2 separate regions of the Homo sapiens genome follow, and region 2 is linked to region 1. The links come from fine-mapping of genetic effects on gene expression. Tissue or cell type: lung. Region 1 holds a variant in brackets; the other region holds the start of a gene. All regions are shown on one strand. Distances are from middle to middle.

The links. PIP is the estimated chance that this variant, and not a neighbour inherited with it, causes the effect.
Region 2: SLC16A12 starts here. The variant in region 1 is fine-mapped to the expression of SLC16A12 in lung (TOPMed, PIP 0.96).

What each region holds. Positions count from the first base shown.
Region 1 is chr10:89,495,903-89,506,065 of GRCh38, reverse strand. All of the region lies in intron 2 of SLC16A12 (solute carrier family 16 member 12), which reads left to right. Among named protein-coding and RNA genes, the nearest start is that of SLC16A12, 35 kb to the left of the region's middle. The variant G/T (reference allele first, on the strand shown) is at 4,881.
Region 2 is chr10:89,531,785-89,541,947 of GRCh38, reverse strand. It overlaps SLC16A12 (solute carrier family 16 member 12), which reads left to right and starts at 6,354. Exons shown (of 8, transcript NM_213606.4): 1 at 6,354-6,506; 2 at 7,308-7,447. RefSeq lists an enhancer at 7,188-8,087.

The DNA.
Region 1 (10,163 bases):
GCTGCCTTTTGTTCAGAGATGCCCTGCCCACAGAGGTGGAATCTAGAGAGACAGTTGGCCTTGCTGAGCTGTGGTGGGCTCCACCCAGTTCGAACTTCCAAGTGGCTTTGTTTACACTGTGAGCATAATACCGCCTACTGAAGCCTCAGCAATGGCAGACACCCCTCCCTCTGCCAAGCTCCAGCATCCCAAGTCGATCTCAGACTGCTGCGCTAGCCACGAGAATTTCAAGCCAATGGATCTTAGTTTGCTAGGCTCTGTGGGCGTGGAACCTGCTGAGCCAGGCACCAGAGGGAATCTCCTGGTCTTCCGGTTGCGAAGACCATGGGAAAAGTGCAGTATCTGGGGAGGAGTGTACTGTTCCTTCTGGTACAGTCTCTCATGGCTTCCCTTGGCTGGGAAAGGGAAATCCCCTGACCCGTTGAGCTTCCTGGGTGAGGCAGCACCCCACTCTGCTTCGGCTCACCCTCTGTGGGCTGCACCCACTGTCCAATCAGTCCCAGTGAGATGAACCAGGTACCTCAGTTGGAAATGCAGAAATCACCCATCTTCTGCATCAGTCTCGCTGGGAGCTGCAGACCAGAGCTGTTCCTATTCAGCCATCTTGCTGGAATTCTTGTTTTTTTTTGTTTTTTTGTTTTTTGAGATGGAGTCTCACTCTGTCACCCAGGTTGGAGTGCAGGAGTGCAGTGGCATGATCTCGGCTCACTGCAACCTCCACCTCCCAGGTTTAAGAGATTCTCCTGCCTCAGCCTCCCGAGTAGCTGGGACTACAGATGTTGCCACCACGCCAGGCTAATTTTTTGTATTTTTAGTAGAGATGGGGTTTCACCATGTTAGCCAGGATGGTCTCAATCTCCTATTTACATACATTATAAGTATATAAAATAATTATTCAAAGTATTCCAAATAAAAGTAGTGCCTATTTGGGTGGCAGATGTGGATGATTTTTATTGTCTTTTTGCTCCATTTTCTCCTTTTTCTGCATCAATTATGTATAACATGTATAATTAAAAATGCTTGACACTCAGAATCAAGCTGTATCAATTCAGAGGTTGATGGCAACCCCCATTTGCTCTGTCTGCTCAGCCTTCACCTGGGTCTTCATCCTTCTTGCCTTGAGACTTATGCTCCCTGGCACACTCTGTACCCTGGGTCCCTCCGATCATGCTCTGGTGCTCGGGGCTGCATGTTCCTCTGCCCAGTGAAGCAGAACCAGAGAACCAGGGCTTGTTGGCAGTGGATTAGACTCTAGAAACATTGTAATCAGGCCCCAGCATATGTCTTTCTGCTTCTCTCATCCACCTTCCTCCCCCATCTTGGTTTTTAGCATAAAATAAATCTCCTTTTTGGGTTTGTTCACTCACCAAGGTTTTGGCTGGTCATCTTTGTTAATTACAACTAGCCTGGGAGAGTACTTTCTTCCTAGTCTGTAACACTGTATATTCTGTAATTTTCTGAATACTTTTAGGCCTTATAGTGAGTATTTATGTCAACATCAAAAGCAATAATGGTTCCGTATGTACCAACTTGGAAAAAGCGGAAAATCTATTCATGGAGCCAGTTACTACTTTTATGAAAATAAGGGTTGTCCAGGGTACAATAATATATATATTTTTTCTTTCACTTACTGTGTTTGATTATGGGCCAGATGAAGGGTGGGTTGGAAAGTATGTTTGTGTTTTAGGGTTAGAGAACTTGATGAACCAGGGAACAGGTAATAAGGAAAGGCATTAGTTAAGAGCCTCTTTCCAACTAGTTAATGGACTCTTTACATGAGATTGACTGTTTTAAGCAATGATCAGTGACCTTTTGGGGAGCTTTTTTTGTTTTGTTTTGACAGGCTGATTCTGGCTGCTTAGTTTCAGGACCAAGAATTTGAAGCAACGGAAAAGAGACTTTCAGAGCTGTTTGAACTTGAACTATTTTGTGTAGATATGGGAAAGAGTGGTAAAATCTGATGACTAATTTTGAGGCCTCATGGAGATGGGAGCTGAAGCTGAGAAAATTGTGTATTGGGGAGGCACAAGAGTAAAATTCCATTTCTTAATTATTTTGTAACTGAACAAGACATTGCTGTTTATTTCCTCTCAACATGTCTTCCTTGTGCTGATTTCTTGCAGACTTCTCAAATGAGAAGCATTTGATACCCTGGGGTTTTGGCTTGCTCTCGACTTCCTCCTTCACTTCCAGCCTCTGGTGATAGACTTGTCTTCCTCCACAGCCTCTGCTCAGACCTCCCACTCCTTCCTGTTGCTGTGGCCCCAGCTGGCTACAGTGGCCTCTGTGGCCCAAATTGTATGGGAACAATTGCGGACTCCACCACAAGCATCTTTCTTTCCAGTCTCTTCTCAGTCTTATTGTGGACTTGCCTTCTCCAGCGACTCTGAAAACACCCACCCTTCTTGACTCACCTGGCCCCATGGTCTTTTCAGGCTACTACTTCTGACTTACCTGTCCACATCTCTTCTTTATTTGGGCACATCTAGAAATTCATATGCTCCATGCCCTTACTGGACTTCGCCTTCTTTCTCTAACCCCACAGTGTGAAATCACTTCATATTTCATCTACTTCAATCATGCTGTACATCTGCATGGAAAAGGCAGAGAGCTATTAAGAGAGAGGTCTTGGGCAGGTTAATGGGATTTTATGGGGACCTTTTATAATTCTACGTGGGATTGGAACAGCAACTATGGATTAAAGGGCATTGCATTCATTGTTTGTGGGTTTTCCTATTAAAGTGAGTCACCACCTTTTTAATCTTTTTCAAATAAAACAAGGCCTATGTTTACATGAGGATGCTAATTAAGGACCCACCACTTTAGTAAGGCATATTTAATGTAAAAGAAAAATAACGTGAAAAAGAAAAGGTAGGAGTCAATTATGTGAGGAATAAGTGACTCTGATGTGTTTACAATTTACTAAGATTTGTTATGCAAAGAGAATATTGCCTTGTTCTCTCTCATCCTATTGTTTCTAGTGACTTGGGGCTGCTTTTGAGAACATTTACTGGAGAGATATGAACTAAGTGCTTGTCTGTTTTGACAAGGTACTTATTACCAAATAGGAACCCGCTGATCCTGATCATAGATTGCAGTTTTGATTGTAGATAGCGCACATGTTTCCTACAAGCTTTGCTGATCACCATTGCTCATCTTCTCAGCCTTTTATTAAGAGATAGGAGAAAGCAGACTGTTGGCTTCCTTGGACAGATGGAAGCCTAGTTGACATGAAGTTGGGGAATTCCTGATCCTCTGCCAAATTAACATTTATGAATCATGTTGGCTTCAATCTCTGACAACCAATATGATTTGGCAGCTGGAAACTGAAATGCACACTCCTTATGGAAGGGGTGTTGACTTTAGCAGTGTCCGACACATGTGCAGCCAAGATGACTGATGTTTATTTGCTTCTATAGTCCTCAAGGCTCAAGGCACATGACACAGTTTTGATAGCTGTCCAGTGCATGGCTCTGAAATGCTGCAAACTCCTGGGCAAGCTGCTGAGTTCTGCTCAGAAGCTTTACCATAAGTAGGTGAATGCATGCAAGATCTAGTTCTCAGTTGTATCAGGAGTTTCTGTGGGCATCACTTTTTTGTTTTTTTGTTTTTTGTTTTTTTGAGATGGAGTCTTGCACTGTTGCCCGGGCTGCAATGGCACGATCTTGGCTCACTGCAACCTCTGCCTCCTGGGTTCAAGCAATTCTTCTGCCTCAGCCTCCCAAGTAGCTGGGATTATAGGCTTCCACCACCATGCCTGGCTAATTTTTTTTATTTTTAGTAGAGACGGGGTTTCACCATGTTGGACAGGCTGGTCTCGAACTCCTGACCTCATGATCTGCCCACCTTGGCTTCACAAAGTGCTGGGATTATAGGTGTGAGCCACCGCACCCGGCCGGGCATCACTTTTGCCTGAATTCCAGCATGAAATGGTCATTGTGCTGTATACTACCCTACATCCTCCCTAACTGAGACAGTGACAGTTTTCAATCTGGGCTGTGTCAGCAGCCAAACTAGATAACTTAAAAGCAACACAGTAAGGATCAAATTGTCTTCAATTCATGAGACAATTCGTTTTCCAGTTTTGACAGGTATAGGTATTTATTGGGGAATTTTTAAAATATATGTTAGGCATGTTCTAGGTACTGGGAATCCAGCCATGAAATAACATAGGCAAGTGTCCCTCCTGCATGGAGCTTACACTTTAGTAGTGAAGACAAATAATAAACAAATGAGCAAATGAGACAACTTCAAATAGTGATAAATATGCTAGGAAGAAAATACAACAGCCTAATTTATTATTATTATTATTTTTGAGATGAAGTCTTGCTCTGTCGCCCGGGCTGGAGTGTACTGGTGTAATCTTGGCTCACTGCAACCTTCATCTCCTGGGTTCGAGTGATTCTCATGCCTCAGCCTCCTGAGTAGCTGGGACTACAGGCATGCACTGCCACACTCAGCTAATTTTTGTATTTTTAGTATAGATGGGGTTTTGCCATGTTGACCTTTCCCCACTTTATGTTTTTGTTTGCTTTGTCAAAGATCAGTTGGCTGTAAGTATTTGAGTTTATTTCTGGGTTCTCTATTCTGTTCTGTTGATCTATACTAGTACCTGCTTTTATACTAGTACCATGCTGTTTTGGTAACTATGGCCTTATGGTATAGTTTGAAATTGGATAATGTGATGCCTCCAGATTTGTTCTTTTTGCTTAGTCTTGCTTTGGCTATGTGGACTGTTTTTTGATTTCATATGAAGCTTAGAATTATTTTTCTAATTCTGTGAAGAATAATGGTGGTATTTTGATGGGCATTGCATTGAATTTGTAGATTGCTTTTGGCAGTATGGTCATTATCACAATATTGATTCTACCCATCCATGA[G/T]CATGGGATGTGTTTCCATTTCTTTGTGTCATCTATGATTTCTCTGAGCAGTGTTTTGTAGTTTTCCTTGTAGTGGTCTTTCACCTCCTTGGTTAGGTATATTCCTAAGGTTTTGTTTTTTTTGTTTTTTGTTTTTGCAGCTATTGTAAAAGGGGTTGAGTTCTTGATTTGATTATCAGCTTGGTAGCTGTTGGTGTACAGAAGAGCTACTGATTTGTGTACATTAGTTTTGTGTCTGGAAACTTTGCTGAGTTCTTTTATCAGTTCTAGGAGCTTTCTGAAGGAGTCTTTAGGGTTTTCGAGGTAAACAATCATATCATCAGCAAACAGTGACAGTTTGACTTCTTCTTCACTGATTTGGATGTGCTTTATTTCTTTTTCTTGTCTGATTTCTCTGGCTAGGACTTCCAGTACTATGTTGAAGAGGAGTGGTGAGAGTGGACATCCTTGTTCCAGTTCTCAGCAGGAATGCTTTCAACTTTTCCCCACTTAGTATAATGTTGGCTGTGGGTTTGTCATAGATGGATTTTATTACATTGAGGAATGTCCCTTGTATGCCGATTTTGCTGAGGATTTTAATCATAAAAGGATGCCGGATTTTGTCGAATGCTTTTTTTTCATCTATTGATATGACCATGTGATTTTTGTTTTTAATTCTGTTTATGCGGTGTATCACATTTATTGGCTTGCATATGTTAAACCATCCCTACATTCACACTCCTGCTATGAAAACCACTTGATCATGGTGGATTATCTTTTTGATATGTTGTTGGATTCAGTTAGCTAGTATTTTGTTAAGGCTTTTAGCATCTATATTCATCAGGGATATTAGCCTGTAGTTTTCTTTTTTTGTTATGTCCTTTCCTGGTTTTAGTATTAGGGTGATACTGGCTTCATAGAATGATTTAGGGAGGGTTCCCTATTTCTCTATCTTGTGGAATAGTGTCAACAGGATTGGTACCAATTCTTCTTTGAATGTATGGTAGAATCCTGCTGTGAATCCCTCTGGTCCTGGACTTTTTTTTGTTGGTATTTTTAAAATTACCATTTCAATCTTGCTGCTTGTTATTGGTGGGTTTCTAATTCTTCCTGCTTTGAGCTAGGAGGTTGTATCTTTCCAGGAATTTATCCATCTCCTCTAGGTTTTCTAGTTTATGCCCATAAAGGTATTCATAATAGCCTTGAATGATCTTTTGTATTTCTGTAGTGTCAGTTGTAATATTTCCCATTTTGTTTCTTATCGAGCTTATTTGGATTTTCTCTCTTCTTTTCTTGGTTAATCTTAGTAATGGTCTAACAATTTCATTTATCTTTTCAGAGAACCATCCTTTTGTTTTATTTATCTTTCGTATTTTTTTTGTTTCAATTTCATTTAGTTCTGCTCTGATCTTGGTTATTTCCTTTCTTCTGCTGGGTTTGGGTTTGGTTTGTTCTTGTTTCTCTAGTTCCTTGAGGTGTGACCTTAGATTGTCTGTTTGTGCTCTTTTAGACTTTTTGATGTAGGCATTTAGGGCTATGAACTTTCCTCTTAGCACTGACTTTGCTGTATCCCAGAGGTTTTGATAGGTTGTGTCACTATTGTCATTCAGTTCAAATAACTTTTTAATTTCTATCTTGATTTCATTTTGACCTGATGATCATTCAGGAGCAGATTATTTAATTTCCTTGTATTTGCAGGATCTGGGCTCACCGTAACCTCCACCTCCCAGGTTCAAGTGATTCTCCTGCCTCAGCCTCCCGAGTAGCTGGGATTACAGGCACACACCACCACACCCAGCTAATTTTGTATTTTTAGTAGAGACGAGCGTTCTCCATGTTGGTCAGGCTGGTCTTGAACTCCTGACCTCAGGTGATCCACCCATCTCGGCCTGCCAAAGGGCCAGGATTACAGGCAAGAGCCACCGTGCCCAGCTTGATTGATTTTAATAAATAAAAATATTTATTTCATTGATATCGCTTTTTTTGATTTCCTTAAATTGGGCTTTGTCTTTCTCTGGTGCCTCCCTGATTAGCTTAATAACTAACCTTCTGAATTATTTTCCAGGTAAATCGGGGATTTCTTCTTGGTTTGGATCCATTGCTGGCAAGCTAGTGTGATTTTTTGGGGGATGTTAAAGAGCCTTGTTTTGTCATATTACCAGAGTTGGTTTTCTGGTTCCTTCTCATTTGGGTAGGCTCTGTCAGAGGGAAGATCTAGGGCTGAAGGCTGTTCACATTCTTTTGCCCCATGGGGTGTTCCGTTGATGTAGTACTCTCCCCTTTTCCTATAGATGTGGCTTCCTGAGAGCCAAGCTGTAGTGATTGTTATCTCTCTTTTGGATCTAGCCACCCAGCAAGTCTGCCAGGCTCCGGGCTGGTACAGGGGGTTGTCTGCACAGAGGCCTATGATGTGGAGCGTCTGTGGGTCTCTCAGACATGGATACCACCACAGTATTTGGGGTGTCTCCCAGGTCCTGCAGGAGCAATCCACCTCCTTCAGAGGGTCTGTGGGTCCTCTCGGGTTTCCTGATTTATTCCTGCAGTCATTCTGGAACAAAAATTCATAATGCGAGTCTCCTCAAGCTGTTCTGTCTGCCCGAGTCGGAGCTGCAAAAACTCTCTGATCATGACTGCCCTTTCTATTTCTTAACATTTTAAAATATAATATTCCAGGTGTTTTGTAAATATTTTACATACTTGATAAAAATGAGGTCAACCATTTGTTGTTTTTCAACTTCATTTGTTCATATAATTTTTGGAACACATTCCCTTTGTATCTATATTTCAGCCAATTGTACATAAACAGGGAATCATTGTTAATGTAATTAATCTCAATCAATTGCACTAGAAATGTTTCCTTCTCTTCTCTTCTCTTTCAACACAGTCTCTTTTTGTTAACCAGGCTGGAGTGCAGTGGCATGATCGGGGCTCACCACAGCCTTGACCTTCTGGGCTCAAGCCATCTTCCCACCTCACCCCCACCCTCTACCACCCCTACCCTACCCACCTCCGAGTAGCTGGGACTACAGGCACGCACCACTACACTTGGCTAGATTTTTGTATTTTTAGTAGAGTTTGGGTTTCGCCATGTTGCCCAGGCTAGTCTTGAACTTGTGGGCTCTGCCTGCCTTGGCCTTCTAAAGTGTTGGGATTACAGGTATGAGCCACCGCGCCTGGCCCCTACTATCTTTATTTTTACTAGTTATAAAGATAAGAATTGTTTCTTGTTAAGTTTTCAAATAGTACAGACGTAGATAAAATAATTATACCTACTTCTAACTTTATCTCATGTAGTTTGTGTGCCCTTATGATTTAAGATATTGGAGGTATAATTACATAGTAACATACATACATAAAATATAGCTCTGAGACCTCAGTAGGAAATGTTGGTTTATATCTTATTAGAAAGAATCCTCTTTAATGAAGATCGACTTGGCCTTAATGAAATCATGTTGGGTTTTTTTTTCCTCTTTCTGATCTCTACCCCTATTAATTCTTTAATCAGTAACTGCACAGAGGATAGAAATAGCATGATGAGGATGTATGCTAGATTGGAAGTCAGGAGACTTGAGTTTAATTCTGTTCTGCCTCTCACCTGCTATGTAGGTTTAGGGAGATTTGAGTTCCAGAGGCCCTAATACAGTGCTGTTTCCCCCACACCATGTAGAATTCTTCCTCTGTGCTTTCCAGTTATCCTTTTGTACCACTGTGCTTTTATTTTTCATTTGAAAAGACCTGGTCTTTGAGTTCCCAGCAATTTGGTCCAAAAAATATATAATCACACTAGTTCAGTTTTAAAACATATACATTTTTGTTTGTATAAATAGTATACGTTAACCTCTGAATTTCTTTGTTTCTACCTGTATTTTTTGAGAATAAATAAAAACCAAAAGAAACTTGCTTTTTAAATCAATCTGATGTGTTTGTAGTGATATCTCATGTGTGTATATGTGTTTAATTAATAGACTTTATTTCTTAGAGCAGTTTTAAGTTTACAAACAGAAAGTACAGAGTTCCCGTATACTCTGTGTCTGCCCCCATATCCCACTCTCTGGTTTTTCCTGTCATTAACATCTTGACTTGGTGTTGTACACATATTACAACTGATGAACGAATAATGATACTTTATTATTAACTAAAGCCTATACTTTACATTCAGGTTCACACTTTTCTCATTGTGTTTTAAAACTGTATTTCTCTGATTAAAAATGAGCATCTTTTCATGTGTTCATTGGCCATTGGGTTTCCTTTTGTGTGGATTGCCTGTCAAAGTCCTTTTTCTATTGGAGTGTCTTTTTAATAGGAGTTCCTTTTACATTCTTGATAGGAGTCCTATGTTGGTTATACATGTTGCAGATATATTCTTCCACTCTCTGTCTTGCTTTTTTATTGTCTTAATAACGTCTTTTGAAATTATTAATTTTAAGGTAGTCAAATGTGAAAGTGTTCTTCTCCTTTATAATTGGAGTTCTTTGAACCCTGTTTTAGAATTCTTTCCATACCTCCAAATCATGAGGATGTTAGCTCCTTAAAGCTTAATTATTTTGCCTTTTCATATGCAGTTGTATAATACACCTGAAATCAACTTTTGTGAATGGTGCAAGATTGAGGGCTCTGAGTTTTTTCAGTAATTTCATTGGACGCTCAAATGTGGGAAATGTTTTTATAGCATTTCTTTCATCATCTATTTCCCCTTGTTTTCTTAGTTTCTGGGACTCCTATTAATTGAATATTAACTCTTCTGAACTAATTCACTAGTTTTCCTGTTCCTTCTAATAGTCTACATCTTTGTGTTCTTGTTTACTTTATGGGATAGTTCTTCTTCTGATCCTTCCATTAAATTTTCAATTTCCACAATTATATTTTAATTCCAAGCATTCTTTTTTAGTTTCCAAATGTTTCTTTCTTTATAGCCTCCTCTTCTTGTTTTATTTATGCATTATGTTTTCTTGACCTCTCTGAAGATATTTACTGTAGTTTTTTTCTTTGAATTTTTCTTTCATGTCCTTGTATGTTCTTTCATGCCCTGAATTGTCCATGTTTCCTCTGAATTTATTTCTTTCTCTTCCTAAAGCCCCCATCCCACTTCTTATGTTAATTGTTATAATAATTATTAGTTATGTTAATAATTTCCTAATTATATGGTAATTTCTTAACTATTTGATGATCTTTGGTTGTTCATTTATTTCAGAATGAGACATTAAGAAGCTGATTAGAAGGAAGGATTTGTGGATTGGCCAGTTGCATGTAGAATGAGCAGCTCTGGTTCAACTTACAAATTTTTGGCTTTACAATGGTGCCAAA
Region 2 (10,163 bases), 36 kb before region 1:
GCTCTTAATATTATGAAAATTAAATAATATTAGAAAACTTAATTTGGAGACACAAAATAATAATATCAAACACATATTTCAGAAAAAAATGACATAAAAGTTTGCACAACCTAACCTAGTGGAAATATTTGGCAATATCTGAAAAAAATTTTGATTGTCACAACTAGGGCATTACTATTGGCACCTAATGGGCAAACACAAAAGATGCTGCTAAATGTTCTACAATGCACAGGGGAGCCCCACAACAAAGAATTGTCAGGCCTAAAATATCAGTAGCGCAGACCTTGAGGGTCTAACCTAATTAGCACAGAAACTGGGATATGTAGCTGCTCAACCCTTTATTTGTTATTTTCTATTTTTAGAGACTGGGTCTAGTTCTGTCGCCCAAGCTGGAGTGCTGTAACACGATAACAGCCTCGAACTCCTGTGCTCAAGAGATCCTCCTACCTCAGCCTCCCAAGTAGCTGGGGTTACAGGTGCTCACCACCATGTCTAGCTAATTTTTAAAATTTTTTTGTAGAGACGGGGTCTCAGTATGTTGCCTAGGCTGGTCTAGAACTCCTGGCCTCAAGTGATCCTCTGGTCTTAGCCTCCCAAAATGTTGGATTACAGGCATGAGCCACCATACCCATCCTCAATCCATGTTTTTTGAATAGTACTGGTGATTTTATTTTATAGATGAGAAATCTGAGGCTCGAGAGGTGGGATGTTAAGAAATTTGCAGCCAGGCGTGGTGGCTCACGCCTGTAATCCCAGCACTTTGGGAGGCCGAGGCGGGCGGATCACGAGGTCAGGAGATCGAGACCATCCTGGCTAACACAGTGAAACCCCCTCTCTACTAAAAATACAAAAAAAAAAATTAGCCTGGCGTGGTGGTGGGCACCTATAGTCCCAGCTACTCAGGAGGCTGAGGCAGGAGAATGTCATGAACCCAGGAGGCAGAGCTTAAATTGAGCCGAGATTGTACAACTGCACTCCAGCCTGGGCAATAGAGTGAGACTCCTTGTCAAAAAAAAAAAGGGAAAAAAAAAAAAGAAATTTGCTTAGTTTGTCTTGGTAAGAAGTGGTAGAAATGAGATTTTTTACTTCGGTTTTCTGATTTCAAATTCAATGCCTTTCAGTTATACCATGACTCCAGAAAGATAAATGGGTTAAAATGATGACATAGCTTTGAGTCATAGTAAATGAGAGAATGTTAGCTCCAGAGACTAAGTGACATCGGAGAAGAGAGTTGTTGGGATCTAAGAGCAGATTGTAGTGATGACTTGAGTTCCTGATATTTTAAAATCTCCAAGTGATGGTGTAGGGAGAATGCAAGTGAAAATATTCACTGGCTATCTGGCAACAAGAATTGGAGTTCAGAGGGAGGTCAGAACTGGAAACGCACTGCCGTTGACAGCAGGTATTAGCTACAGTCATGAGGCTGGGATGGAGATATACATTAAGAAAGGACAGTGGAAATAGGGGCTAAAGTCTAAGAAAGTGCTCATAGAAAAGAGTGGACTGGTGAAAGAGGAACAAAAAAAGATGATAAAGAAGGTGGACTCTAGGCTGGGCATGGTGGCTCACGGCTGTGGTCCCAGCACTTTGGGAGGCCAAGGCGGGAGGATCGCTTGAGCCCACAAGTTTGAGACCAGCCTGGGCAACATGGCAAAACTCTGTCCCTACAAAAAATACAAAAACTAGCCAGGCATGGTGGTGGGTGGCTGTAGTCCCAGCTACTTGGGAGGCTGAGGTGGGAGGATCTCTTGAACCTAGGTAATCAAGGCTGCAGTGAACTGTGACGATGCCACTGCACTCCAACCTGGGTGACAGAGTGAGGCTCTGTCTCAGAAGCAACAAAAGAAGAAAGAAAGAAAGAAAAAGAGGCAAAGAAAGAAGGAAAGGAAGAAAAAAGAGAGAGCCAGAGAAAAGAAAGGAAGGAAGGAAGGAAAGAAGGAAGGAAGGGTGAGAGAAAAGAAAGAAAGAAAGAGAGAAAGAAAGAAAGAAGAAAGAAAGAGAAAGAAGGAAGTAATGAAAGAAAGAAAAAAAGAAAAAAGAAAGAAAGAAAGAAAGAAAGAAAGAAAGAAAGAAAGAAAGAAAGAAAGAAAAATTTGTTTCTTGGTGTCTAAGGAAGAATTTCACTATTTCCTTGTCCATGTATTGCCCTAATCTGTACAGCTGACTACGTAAAATACTTGCATCTTATTTATGCTGTTTGTATTTAGTCCTAAAATCTTAATTAGTCATGAGAACAAAATTTCAAATTCTATTTAGGCAAAAGCCTTAAGGTTTCATCCTCAACCCCCAACCTTCCAGTAGCTTCTATCTTGACCTGGACACCCCAAATATTACTTATCTGTAGCCAATGTTCCCTTTTTTTCTGTACTGAGTCCACACATTCTTGTTTGACCAAATAACAGGAACAAACAATTCTTTTCATAATGGATGTACCCTAAGGTGTCAGGCTTCTCAGAATCCTATCTGAAAATTAATTCCACTGAACCATGGTGCAATAGGATTTTAGTTAACACACGTGTTATTTATTGGCTACAAATGGTAGGGATTTGACAAAATATTCTGTGCCTCCAGGCCAGAAAAGTACAAATAGTACTCAATTCTGAGTAGGGAAGAAGAGGAAGGGAGAAAGTTAGAACACAACTATTAATGCATGTGGAGGTACCAGATCAGCTGACCACATCAGCGAAAGGTTACTTAACTAATAATGATGTACCATTAATGCCATGTCCCTATTAAAGAAAAAAAATATTCAATGTCACTTGTTACAGCATGGTAAAGAAGACTATTCAGGACCATTGAGACAGATACAGGGACCACTACAACGAAGACTTGCAGTAGGGTAGAGAGATGGGGCTCCACTATGAATACAGCAGAGGAAAATCGGAATTTATAGCCAAGAAACAGGATATGGGACTCTAGTTAAATCGACCTAACAGGATTCTTACTAAAGACAGGCCAAGGTGATTAGATATCACCTGGAGGACAGTGGAGGATGAGGAACCCTTGGGTGATCAGTTGTCAATGGGAAGGGACGTTATTGCCAAACTGATTTTGCCGGGTTCTTTGATAAACTGGAATTTACAAGGAAATACACACATGGTCTTAGGAGAAAGTTCAGGAGCCTGACTAAAGTTTGGCCAAGGAAAAAAATCTTTGTCATTCCCCAATATTTTTAAGGTAAAAGACTATTAATACTAATAAGGATTAATATTTTTTACACATGTATAATATGCAAGGCATTGAATTAAATACATTCTATAGATTAACTCATTTTGATTATCACAAAGCCTCGATGTAGGTTTAATTTTCATTCTATTACTTGCTTTTAGACAGATGAAGTTCTGACTATGACTTGGAAAAGCTGGGTATCTGGGCTCATTTCTTTACCAAAATCCTGGCCTCTAAGCGTCACTGTCCAGTAGAACTTTCTGTGATGAAGAAAACGTTTTGAGTGCTATCCAGTATGGTAGACATTAGCCACATCTTGGAGTGAAGCACTTGAAAGGTGATTAGTGCAACAGACTAGTAGTAAAAAAGAAAAAAGCAAAACACACACAAGAAACCTCAATTTTAATTACGATTATAATTAATTAACTAAAATGTAAATAGCCATATTTTATAGCCGTGTTGGGACTGTGCAAACATAGCACATTTCCATCACTGTAGAAAATTCTGTTGGACAGTGCTATTTGGAAGAAATGTTGCTCCTTCCCTTTCCTCCTAGGTTGGATTCTAGGGTTCCTTTGCTTTGCTTTTCTTCTGCACAGCGATAGCAGTCCAACATTCTCCACCCCCAATCCTCCAGCCTCAGTGAAAGGAGATTGTTTTGCTTTGTGCATCTCCCTTTCTCCACTTCCATGCTGCCTGTCAGCAGCTATGTCAGGTCTTGAGCGTGGAACCCCAAAGGGGTAGGCACACAGAAGTGACCCGTCTGTATCCGGCACTGCCTATACGCATTGCACTCACCATCACCATCATCAACCCACAGTTACTGAACTCGTAAAGGATGAAAATCATCCTGCCAGAGATAGAATCAGACACACAAAATCTGAACTTCTAATGAAACAACAACATCAGTGACACAGCATTGAATAGAATAAACACAGTATTAGCTTTGGTCTTTGCTAGAGCCCCCTGTAAGTGGTGACTTAGACGAAAGGAAGCCTTGTGCGGTGTCCTAGTCTCCAAAACTTTAAAAACTGTTGTCCTACATTATTTAAATGGAAAGTGAGACTTATTTGCCACCCAAAGCAATGTTTAACTGAAAGAAGCATTTTTCTGAAACTCAAAGGTATTCAAGCCTTTAACCTAAAGACCTTCACGGCTGAGAGGTCAGGGCTCACTCATGGCAGCCTCTACATTTACAGGTTCATTTTCAATGCTAATGAATTCTTTTACAAGCTGTATTTGTTCTTTCTTTTGTGAGTTTTGAACATTTATTCACTAATCATCACTTAAATCTAACCTAGGGTTTTTTGCAAGTGAAAATAGGACTTAAATTCAGATTTATAGTTAAAGGGCAGGAAACTGAGAGGAGGGGGATGACTAAAAATAGCCAGAGGGTAAAATGAGAAAGGACTATACTAGACTATTTAAAAAAACCCCTGGCTTGCACAGTGGCTCAAGCCTGTAATCCCAGTGCTTGGGGAGGCTGAGGCAGGAGGATCCCTTGAGCCTAGGAGTTCGAGACTGCAATGAGCTATGATCGCACCACAGCACTCTAGCCTTAGCGACATAGTGAAATCCCTTCTTTAGAAAACAAACAAAACGAGACTCCTTCCCAAAAAAAAAAAAAAAAAAAACATACCTACGGTGCCTTGCTGCGTGGCAAATGCTCCCTACTGTTCATCAGTAACTCTTTGTCGGGCAGATCATGAGGTCAGGAGTTCGAGATCAGCCTGGCCAACATGGTGAAATCCCGTCTCTACCAAAGATACAAAAAATTAGCTGGGCGTGGTGGCACGCGCCCGTAATCCCAGCTACTCCGGAAGCTGAGGCAGGAGAATCGTTTGAACTAGGGAGGCGGAGGTTGCAGTGAGCCAAAATCGCACCACTGCACTCCAGCCTGGGCGACAGAGCGAGACTGCTTCTCAAAAATAATAATAATAATAATTCCAAAAAGCCTAATTCATTTTGAAATTTTGACATACAGCGAAATCACCAGGGAATCTTGCAAAAAATGCAGATTCTGATCCGCGGTTGGGCCTGAGATTCCGCATTTTTAACAAGCACCCAGGTGATGACCTCGCTGTTGGTCTACGGGCCACTCTTGAAGAAGTGAGGACGTAGGCTCCAAGATATTGGAACCAGACCTTGTCAGTTCAGAGGCCTTGCTTCTGACAAGGAGAGGACTTTACAGAAAGTTCGCCTGGAACCTGTCCTACGTGGGGTACGTCCTGGCAGCTCCCTTTTCAGGCTTTGAGTCAACGTTTGGGGAATTGTATTATGTACCGGGCGCCTACACCTCACTCATTTCATACTCGCAGCAACAACATGAAGTGGGCGCTATCATCCTTTGTTTTACAAGCAAAAGTGAGGCTCAGAGAGTTAAATTGCCCAAGGTTATGAGATTTTCAGATGCGTTGAACCCAGGTCCTTTTGACTCCAAGAGATAACGCTTTTCACTAGCATTCTGGAGCTTCAGTTTCCTGTGCTGTGAAATGGGAAGGATTGGCTAGCAGGGTCCGGATCCCTGCCAGATACACCTAAAGGAGGCCTTGTATTTTTTCTCGAGATCTTGCTCTTTGACCCTGAGGGGAAAAGTTCTTTTTGGGAACACCGAGCTCCCCTCGGCTTGCCGAGGTCAGGGGTCATGGCTCTTCCCGGGGAGGGTCCGGCAGTCCTAGAGCGGTTTGGCTGGGGACACAGAAAGCCGGTGCATTACATAACCGCGAGACGTCCCTCCTCCGCTGCGCCCCTCGCCCCTAGCCAAGCCACAGTACTTAGAGCGGATCCCCGCGCTAAATCCTCTTTGCCGGCCAGGCAGAGTCCCCGGCGGAGCTGGCGGGGCTGAATGAGCCGGTGCATTTCGAAGGCCGAGCACTGGGATTTTCCGCGCTACGCTTCCCTCTCCCGGCGTTGCCAGCTAGGCCCCCGGCCCCAGCCTCGCCGGCGCCTCCGCCCAGTCCGCTCCCCGCCCCACCGAAGCGCGGATCGCGCAGCCTGGGGCCCGGGAAGGGGCCACTGCGCAGGGACGCGGCTCGGCGGGTGCGCCCCGGGGGCATGTCCGCGCGCTACCGCCAGGGCTGCAGTGGTCCCGGCGAGGTGAGGAGGCGGCGGGGCCGGGCTGGGGGCGGGTGTGGCAGGAGGGCGGGCGGGGCATGGGGGTGGTCTGCGCGCTCTGGGCGGGCTGCAGAGCGCTGGAGCGCTGGAGCTCTGGGCTGTCCCGGGCTCAGTCTCGCCGGCGGCCCCCGCTCCCGGATCCCCAGCGCCCTGGCCAAGAAGCTTCCTCGGCTCCCCCTCTTCCCTCTCCCTGACACGGTTGTGCAGAGGGCGCGGTGGCTCAGGTGACACGGGCATCCTTCAAGGAAGGGCGGCGGGACGGCGGGGCGCTGGCGCTGTCGTTGGAGCTGGAGGAGGACGGGGACCCTCCATTCTCCGCTGCCCTAGCGCCCATCCCGCGCCGGGAGCCTGGGACCCTAACTTGGGTGCGTCGGCGCGCAGCTTGGGTTGGGAGGGAGACACGTGCTCACTTGCCCTGTCTGGGTTGGGTCTGCGCTGCGGCCGAGTTTTTGGGCAGGTGGCTGGAGAACGAGCGGCTTTGATCTCCATCTCTTGTGGTTTTCAAATGCAGACTTCTCGGTGGAATAGAGACCATCTTTCTTCTGGATTTTATGTTTATAGTACATTTTAAAAATCTCTCCCCGTCCCCCACCTCAGACAATAATATTTATTTCCCGTGTGTGCTATATTAAAAACACACCGGCTTTCAGTGGATTGAACTCAATTTCTCAGTTGCTTCTTGTCCACAAATAAACCAGTGATACCTGTATTGTGGACTCGGAAAAGCGTTCGTAACAAAATTTTGAAGCACAATTTCAGTAAGTCCTGGGGCTATTTGGTTAGTCTTCCGTTTTCACACATCAGCATTCTAAACCTCTTATACTATTTATTTATTTAGAGACAAGGTCTCGCTCTGTCGCCCAGGCTGGAGTGCAGTGGCGCGATCTCAGCTCATTGCAACCTCCGCCTCCCCGGCTCCAACGATCCTCCCTCCCCAGCATCTGGAGTAGCTGGGACTAAAGGTGCGCGCCACCACGCCCGGCTAATTTTTGGATTTTTTTTTTTTTTTTTTTTTTTTTTTGCAGATACAGGATTTCGACATATTGGCCGGTTTGCTCTCGAGCTCCTGGGCTCAAGCGATCTGCCCGCTTTAGCCTCCCAAAGTGATGGGATTACAGGCGTGAGCCACCGTGCCTGGCCATAATTTTTAAAAATGTCTAGTCAGGTGAGTCCTGCCAGGAAACTGGTTAAACACTCTCCTTTTGAAGAGCCTCTAATTAGTTCATCCTACCTGGTTCTTTGCTCAGAGCTAGGCACTCCCGCGGCGTCACCAGCTTAGCCCAGGGGGAAAATCTTCCGGCCTTTCAAATTCAGAAACACATTCGCTCCACAGGTGTAAGCTCGCTAACAGTTAAAATCATCAGCTAGCTGCCCTTGCATTGTTTGTCGCTCCCCCTCCATAAATGTCGTGCCAAACTGTGGCTAATGGTGTTTGACATCCTCCACCCCCTGCGCCCCCAAGGTGACCGGATGTTTGCTGAAGAAATGAAGGATGTAAAAGAGTAGTGGTAGTAATTAGGTGAACTGGATTTAGTCACTTATAATTACAGGGTTTAGAGAAACTTTGAAACTGAAAGGCTTTGGAGACCATCTACTAAATTCAAACTCTTCACGTTACAGCCCAGGAAGCTCAGATCCAGATTGGCAAGGATTGGCTGAATTCATACTGTTAACTGGTGATGGAATCAACACTAGAATCCAGATCTTCTCATTCCCACCTAACTCAGTTTTCCAAGGCATATTGCCTCTAGGCATTTTGAGCAAAAATAATATGACTAGCATCACCTAATCACATCATTTTCCTGTTCTTATTTTTTATGTTTTTTTTTTTTAACTGATGGGATTCTGAAATAGATGAGAGGTTGATTTAATCAAATTGCTTTTGTGGCACAATTTTTAAAGGTGCAAACCTTTAATTTTAAGTAATATTTTAAATTATTTTTATATTATGGATATACAGATACTTCTCAGGTGAATGCCCAGAAGAAGAAAATTAGTCCAAATAGATGGGAGTAACTCTACCCCCATCTTTCCTTGGAGTCTTTTCTGATTCTCAGCACCCTCTATGGTAATGATCGATCAGAAGTAAAAACATGAATTATAGTGTTGAAGTGTTTTATATGAGGACTGTTTGTTTATTGTGATTAATACTATGACCAAAACAAAGCTAAGAAAGGAGTTTCAAAGTGACTTATTTAACATTGCATTGCACTGCATATTTTTCAATTTAGTTCAATTGAGCAGATATTTATTGAGTGCCTACTGTATGCCTAGTGCTGTTCTGGGCATTTGGGATATGTCAATGAACAAAACAAAGAACTTTGATCCTATAGAGCTCAAGTTGCAATTTATTCACTAGAATTTTTCCAGGATTTCTTAGGCAGGTACAAGAGAATTTCAGTTTTACCTAAGCAGGAAAATAAACATAAGTGATCCAAACTATCTTCCTTCCAATCCTGCAATTCTGAGAATCTTATAATCATGGAAAAAAAAAAAACTAAAAACGACAACAACAACAACAAAAAAACAAATTCAGGTGAAGTTACTTTGACTTTTATGAGCTGACATTTTACTGTAAGTGAATTGCAGTTCCCACATTTGGTTATTTAATATATGTTCATTTGGAGTCAATGAAATTACATTTCCTTTATTGCAGGGAGATCACCTTGGTGACTAAACTTGAAGCACGGGATGATTTGTTTTCTTAAGAGTGTTAGTGGTACCATGTTAGTATTGGAGACTAATTAAATTAGTTTATAAGATGTTGCTTTTTATTTATTTATGAAGATGGTGTTCTGTTGTTATTTTGTCTCACTTTACATTTTGTCCCCCACTTTCCTCCATATTCATAGACTATTAGACATTCCAGTTTTAAGCATTTTCTAATTCTCTCAATTGCTTTTTCTTCAAAACAGCATAGTTTGCAAGCTCAGGCATGTTTATTGTTTTTAACAAAGGCTTATCGAAATGAACTTGGCAGTTTTTCAGTCGTATACAGCCAAAGAAAAGTATTCAGTGCCGCTTTTGGGGTTGTTTATGCATTCCTCACCTAACCAGTTGCTTTGCTTTTAAAAATTGCCAATTTGGAAGCTATTTTCTTATGAGTACCTTTCCAGTGTATATAAAAAGTCACCCATTGAAATGATATAATAATTTAATTGATGAAAACTAAATACACAGTTGAAGAGGTTGGGGGATTTTGAACAGAAAGATTTTCCCTCTGATAATATTTTTAATGTGCTCTACATCAAAGGACATCAGAAAGTGTCATTATCTAACAATGTCCTGTTTGAAGGTGGTGTCTGTTGAACATTTGGGGAACAGTCACAATTTCTGATGCATGCTAGGCACCTGGAGTAGCTGATTTTTTTTTCTTCATTCACCCACCACTGTGCCCCATCAGATACATATCCTTCCTTCATTTACCGCGCATTGACGAGTAGGGTTAATTGCTGTAGCCAGGTAAGATGTTGCATGAAATTAATTAATTATTTAATTAGTGTGCTCATTCATTTATTAATTTAATGAATATTTATTGAACTTCTACTTCTTATTAAAAGATTTGTATAAGGATTTGTGTGAAGACTGTGTTTTGAGCATCTCTTTTCTGGTGCTGGTGACAGCAGGACGTGTAAAGACACAGAACATGCCTCTGATGCAGCTTACATCCTGGTATGGAAGAGAGGACATTGTATGGCTAGCTATCATACCGATTCAAACTACCATAAGAGATGCATAAGTACTTTGGGAATTAAAAGGAAGAAGAGAGAGCAGGCAGGCACTGTGAAGATTTGAGGGTTAGGGAAGACTTTGTAGAGGAGGGCCCATTGGAGTTGCTTCTTGAAAGATGGTAAAGCACGGTAAAGCTTTTATAGAGGCAG